Linked DNA regions of Homo sapiens. The protein of the gene in region 2 purifies or fractionates together with the protein of the main gene of each other region. This does not show direct contact. Each region holds a gene or a part of one and is shown on either strand. Other genes may lie near its edges.

Region 1 (3,659 bases), on a different chromosome or scaffold from region 2:
CTCACATATGATTTCTATCATCTGAACAAGTATACTTGACTTACCAAAACCTCAAATGGTTTATTCACTAAACCATATTCCCTCCACTGGACAAGAGGAGCTGGAGAAATGGGAAAGCACACACTTCGCAGCCCAAAGAATAAGCCATTTGTAACAAGCAATGTTACAGAATTGAGCATCCTGCCCAGTAGTGTAGAAATAAAGGAACAGAAATTCAAATCAATAATATCAGCATGGCCAGCACGGTGGCTCAGGCTTGTAATCCCAGCACTTTGGGAGGCCAGGGCAGGAGGATCACCTGGGGTCAGGAGTTTGAGACCAGCCTGGCCAACATGGTGAAATCCCATCTCTACTAAAAATATAAAAGTTAGGCTGGGCGCGGTGACTCACACCTATAATCTCAGCTCTTTGGGAGGCCAAGGCAGGCAGATCACGAGGTGGGGAGTTTGAGAGCATTCCGACCAACATGGTGAAACCCCCATCTCTACTAAAAATACAAAAATTAGCTGGGCGTGGTGGTGCGCACCTATAATCCCAGCTACTCAGGAGGCTGAGGCGGGAGAATCACTTGAACCCAGGAAGCAGAGATTGCAGTGACCCGAGATCATGCCACTGCACTCCAGCCTAGGCAACAGAGCAAGACTGCCTCAAAAAACAAACAAACAAACAAAAAACTGAAAGAAGAAAAAACAATATCAGCATGCTTTAAGGAAGCTAGGCAAAGCAGAATATTGCCACTGCTGATGAGTATTTTGTTTTCACATCTAAGAGGAGGAGTTTTTATGCATAGAAAAGACTGAGATTTACTCTAGTTTTAAAATATTAATACTTAATTTATTAAAGTTACAAATTCAAAAAGCCTAGATTTTACTCAAATTTTTACACCGAACTTAGACAACTTATTCTACTTGGAGGTCTAATTTTAAAGGCCTGTGATGAATGTCTAAACTCATTTCAAAGTTCACCTTCAACATAACATCTTCAAACATAAAATGTTAACTACTTAAAAAATTTTACCAAGACTACACTTTCAGGGATCATTTCTACAGTTTGTTACTGGAGAAGTTTCTCTGAAAGTGTAGAGTACCAAACACTTTTTTTAAATTAAAAAAAAAAAAAATTTATCAAGTGAGAACTATTGCAACCCCCCCACCAAACCCCAACAATATATTCAATTTTAAGTATAATTGCTAGACTTAAAAAGACAAAATTTTTGTATTTTAACATGTGTCAAGAAAAAAAAATTTCCTGAGAATAACTTACATACCTAAAAAATTAAACTTATAGTGACTCTTAGGTACTCTCTAATGTCCACAAAATAAAATAACTGCAATAAGGTTTCAATTTAAATTCACAAGTATAAATCAATATTCAGTCAATTATACATTTTAAATTGAAATCATAAGACTAATATAAGTGCCGGGCATGGTGGCTCACACCTGTAATCCCAGCACTTTGGGAGGTCAAGGTGGGAGGATGGCTTGAGCTCAAGAGTTCAAGACTAGCCTGGGCAACATGACGAAACCTCATCTCTACAAAAAATACAAAAGTTAGCCAGGCGTGGTGGCGCATGCCTATAGTCCCAGCTACTTGGGAGGCTGAGGTGGGAGGATCGCTTGAGCCTGGGAAGTCAAGGATGCAGTGAGCAGTGTTCATGCCACTGCACTCCAGCCTGGGTGACAGAGTGAGACCCTGTCTGGAAAAAAAAAAAAAAAGACCAATATATTACTCTAAATTCTAATATTAAAAACACTTACTCACGCCTGTAATCCCAGCAATTTGGGCAGTCAAGGCAGGAGGCTTGCTTGAGTCCAGGAGTTTGAGACCAGCCCGGGATACATGGCAAAACCCTGTCTCTACAGAAAAACAGAAAAACTGGCCAGGTGTGGTGGCATGTACTTGTAGTCCCAGCTACTTGGGAGGTTGGGGTGGGAGGATCACTTGAATCCGGGAGGTCGAGGCTGCGGTGAGCCAAGATCATGCCCCTGTACTCCAGCCTGGGCAACAGAGTGAAAGCCTGCCTCAAAAAAATTAATTAAATTTAAAAAAGAAAAAAAACCACTTTAAATATCAAACATAGGTCACTACCACATCAACTCCTTGTTCTGAAAACTGGTAATTGAAAATAATGAATTAAGCTTTTAGCATTTAACATGGCTTTCTGGGAAGACTAACAGTCAATATGGGAAAGCTATTCTTTTTTGTTGTTGTTTCTGAGACAGGGTCTCACTTTGTAGCCCAGGCTAGAGTGCGGTGCTGTGATCACGGCTCACTGTAGCTTCGACTTCCTGGGCTCCAGTGACCTCCTACCTCAGCCTCCCAAGTAGCTGGGACTACAGGCACGCAGCAGCACACCAACTAAGTTTTTTCAATCTTTTCGTAGAGACAGGCTCTCATGTTGCCCAGGCTGCTCTTGAACTCCTGGGCTCAAGCGATCTGCCTACCTTGGCCTCCCAAAGTGCTGGGATTACAGGCATGAGTCACTGTACCCAGCCCAGGAGAGCTACTCTTTAAAGAAGAATATTCACTAACAAAGGTAGAAACTACAATAGAACTAGGTAAAAATCATTTTGTAACCCTCAATAATACAACTGATTGAGGAAAGAATCAACAACAGTGGATATTTACGAAATGCCAATTACTCCATAAATTACCTCTAACTGAAAATGGAAAAAGATGTTCCTGTCAGCACCTCAAATTGATCAAATTTAGCATCACTAATACTGGATAACCTGACATTATGTACTTTATACAGAAAATAAAGTATATAACATCACCTACAAAGTTTCTCAAAAATATGTTGAACCTATATCTAATCAAGCCTGTAGAAATAAGTTAGAGTTTAAGAAAATACAGGAGATAAAGCTGGGTGCAGTGGCTTACACCTGTAATCCCAGCACTTTGAGAGACCAAGCTGGGAGGATTCCTTCAGCCCAAGAGTTTGAGACCAGCCTGGGCAATATATTGGGACCCTGTGCCTACAAATAAATTTTTAAAATATAGCCATAGCTGGGACTACAGGCACATGCCACCACACCCAGCTAACTTTCTGTATTTTTTGTAGAGACAGGGTTTTACCATGGTGCCCAGGCTGGACTTGAACTCCTAGGTTCAAGCAATCCACCCACCTCGGCCTCCCAAAGTGCTAGGATTTATAGGTATGAACCACCATGCCTGGCGGGAAATTGGCTTTTTTTTTTTTTTTTTGGTGACAGGGTCTCACTCAGTCACCCAGGTTGGAGTGCAGTGGTGTTTATCTTGGCTCACTGCAACCTCTGCCTCCCAGGCTCAAATGATCCTCCCACCTCACCCTCCCTTGTAGGTGGGACTACAGGCATGCGCCACCACTAATTTTTTACATTTTTGGTAGAGACAGGGTTTCACCATGTTACCTACGCTGGTCTCTAACTCCTGAACTCAACTGATCCTCCCACCTCAGACTCCCAAAGTGCTGGGATTACAGGCGTGAGGCGCCATGCCTGGCTGGCAGGAAATTTTTAATATATTAAAACATGAATTGTCTAAACTATGACAATGGCATCATGGTTACATAGGTGAATGTCCCTATTTTTAAGAAACGCATGTTGAAATATTTAGAGATGAAGTGTTATGATGTTTATAACCTATTTTGAAATGATTCAACATTAAAAGTCATAGCT
Region 2 (3,243 bases):
TGGAAAATAATTTGTTTCAAAGACGGTGATGAAAGGAAAAAAAAAGTTTAACTTTCCAAAGGTAATGCTTTCATGAAGAGTTAGAAATAGCAGTTTTAGTAATTAGTTGTAGGAATTCTGGTTAAGACTTCAACATTTTACCTTACTTAAAAGATTTGCTTTATGCAACATTTAATGCCCAGTTTTGCATGGCTCTAAAAATCTTTAAAATGCAAAAGCTTTTCCAGTGACTGGAAGCCAACACGACAAGAATGAAATGGTATGACCTGTGAATTAGCCTGGTTTATAAAAAAATACCAGTTCAGAGACCATAAACAAAATAAAGAAACTAAGCAATCCTTAAATTGGATTTAGCCTTGGGCAATTAGCAGAAAAATTCACTCATAAAAGGATCCATTTTACAGATATTGTTTTTTAAAATGTCAGGAACTGGTTTTATAAGAGTAAAAAAGTTAAAATTAATTGCATCTTCCATAAAGAATATGATGGAAATAATTATATACGAAAAATGAGACAATAAAAGTCCATTTATAAAGTGCCTTAATGTACCAAAAAAGGAGGTCAGATGTCCTTTATTTACAAATCATATTTAATCCCATTTACAGAAAGGCAAATATTACACTGGAGAGGCAGCATAATAGAGTATAAAGAACTCTCAACTTCGAGTCAGAAGATCTGAATCTTTTTGGCTTTGCCACTAATTTTCTCTGTGACTTTGAGCAAATGAGAGTTTTTCTGGGCTTCGGTTTTCTCATCTGTAAAATGAGAGGTAGAACTACACTGCTTCTAAAGCCAGTCCTTGCTTAGATGTAAAATTCTGTGTTAAGCAATGTAAATATGGTTCTTAAGTTTTGGAATTACATAACAGGGTTCTACCATATTAATAATCTCTGTAAAAACTGATTATTCCATAATAGGTAGGTAAAAACATTATAGAACTGTGATCAAATACATTTTGAGTTCATGATTTGGCTGCTGTACAAAGGTGCAAAAAAGGCATAGCATTTTGGTTACTGATATACACGTGTAGGTTTTCAGGAATGCTGACAAATTCCAGATATAAGGGAAATGACAGCACAAGGAACACTGACCTACAGATAAACTAGATACTGTCCTTCACAAAGATGCATGGGGAGTTAGCAAACTGAGGAAGCTGTGGATATGTTAAGCCCTTCATCTTGAGGAATATAATCTATGTTTAAAAAACCAAAGCTAGTGGCTGAGCACGGTGGCTCACACCTGTAGTCTCAGCACTTTGGGAGGCCGAGGCAGGAGGATGACCTGAGGTCAGGAGTCCAAGACCACCCTGGCCAACGTGGTGAAACCCTGTCTCTGCTAAAAACACAAAAATTAGCCGGGCGTGGTGGCGTGCACCTGTAATTCCAGTTACTCAGGGAGCTGAGACAGGAGAATCACTTGAACCCGGGAGGTGGAGGTTGCAGTGAGCTGAGACTGCGCCACTACACTCCAGCCTGGGCGACAAGAGTGAAATTCCATCTAATACAAACAAACAAAAAAAACAAAAAAACAAAACCAAAGATAGTATAGCTATATTTCTGTTTGGGAAGGTTTACCAGGCAAGGTAAACTGTCCCTGAGCAATACAAATTTGTTGTCCAGAGAATATTTTGGCTTTTAAAATATTGGCAAAGTTACACTCAGATACGAGTTTTGTTTGGTTTTTTTAAGAGTTAGCTCAATATCAGGGACATTGTAAATTAATTTTATAACAATAATCTGGTAGTATTTCTCATTGGAATTATCTACTTTAGTAATATACATGTGCCAAGAACACTAATAAGACAAAATATTTCCTAAGAGTGACAAAAAGTTGCTTTTTCTCACTAATTTTTTACTGCTGCACACATAGGTATACTGGCATTTAATTAAAGCATAAATGTTAATGCCAACTTGCTAAATGATATGCGCTGGCAATGTAATGTAACAAATGCAAATTCACATCAGTCTAACACTGTATAAACATACTCATGCATTTGTGTACTGATAGTACAGTCAAATAAAATGATTCATATTTTGACAAAAACTAAACTTGGAATGGAGGGCTCTGTGAAAGGCAGACTTGGGTCTTCAAATATCTCCGTATGTGAAATATCAGTATTTATACATAATCAGTTTTTAAAGGCACACATCCAAAAGCTCCCTTCATCTAGATCTGTCATTTTCTCTATCTAATATGCCAAAACCCACAGAATATCCCAGAGTTCTCTCAGACTTGGTGGTGGTTGCAAACTTCTAATGACTACTTATATTTGTAGAAAAACCAGTACCATTATCAGGACACTTCCTTTTGAACTTTCCTGCTTAAAAGACCTCAACAGTTGTTTTAAGCACATACTACTGCAGTAAATCATAGATTTCAAACCACCTGGCAGTAAGCAAACATGTTTAGAAAATGCCACTTTGCCTGCGGAAAAGAGACTATTGATAGAGTTCACGGCAATCTGCAGCAGTTTAGAAAAGAATGAAGAAAGTGGTCTAGTTCTCCTAATAGAGAGTAGTTTATAGTTGTAGGTCAGAAATAGGGGAAAAGACACTCTAAAACTTAGAATCAACAGGGATTTCTGCCACATCACTAAAAAGTACTTATTGATCTACATTCTTAATAATTGTTTCCATCCTGCAGGGTTTTTTCTCCCACATTTACAATTTTTTTAAGTTAAAAGGGAATATGTATTGTAAAATGAAGTATAAGGGAAAATCAGATCATTTTCTCTTCATAAAACACAGAGAATACTTAAGTAGAGTGCTCAAGCACTTATCTCGAATTGCAATTTTATTTTTCAAATACGTAAGAACCTAGAAAATCAACTCAGCACTTACTTCCTAGATACCTGTGTTAGGAAAAGTTCTACATCACCACATTTCCTCTGTACCTTTAATAATTCAAACTCAATAAAATGCTGCTTTAGGATTCCTGAAAGCAATTGTATTTGTGCAAAGCCTAAACAGGAAAACAAAGTGGATGACTTGGCATTTGAAGAATGAAAAAGCCAAACAGCACTGTCACAACCATTTCTGCCTTCAGTCTCCAATGCCTTTTTCTTTCATTATAAAATCCATAGAAATGGCAAGGAAAGATATAGGAAAGTTTATCACAGATACAGTAGCTATTACAGAAATTTGGAATTCAGCAGATGTTTTAAGTCAAAATTTTCTGTGTAACAGATGAATTTGCAAAGTTTTGAAAACACAGTCCACAAAGTAATTTAAAATGTGATAATTA

What was found. The genes of interacting proteins can lie anywhere in the genome.
Region 1: the proteins of SLC30A7 (region 2) and CNOT10 purify together in Homo sapiens (affinity purification with mass spectrometry; one large-scale study listed by BioGRID and IntAct). This does not show direct contact.

The regions. Positions count from the first base shown.
Region 1 is NC_000003.12:32,691,600-32,695,258, reverse strand, and holds part of CNOT10 (CCR4-NOT transcription complex subunit 10), read right to left. Parts: intron 1,096-3,659; exon of another isoform or gene 1,019-1,095; intron 1-1,018. UniProt on the Homo sapiens protein: Component of the CCR4-NOT complex which is one of the major cellular mRNA deadenylases and is linked to various cellular processes including bulk mRNA degradation, miRNA-mediated repression, translational repression during translational initiation and general transcription regulation.
Region 2 is NC_000001.11:100,976,028-100,979,270, reverse strand, and holds part of SLC30A7 (zinc transporter 7), read right to left. Parts: 3' UTR 1-3,243. UniProt on the Homo sapiens protein: Zinc ion transporter mediating zinc entry from the cytosol into the lumen of organelles along the secretory pathway.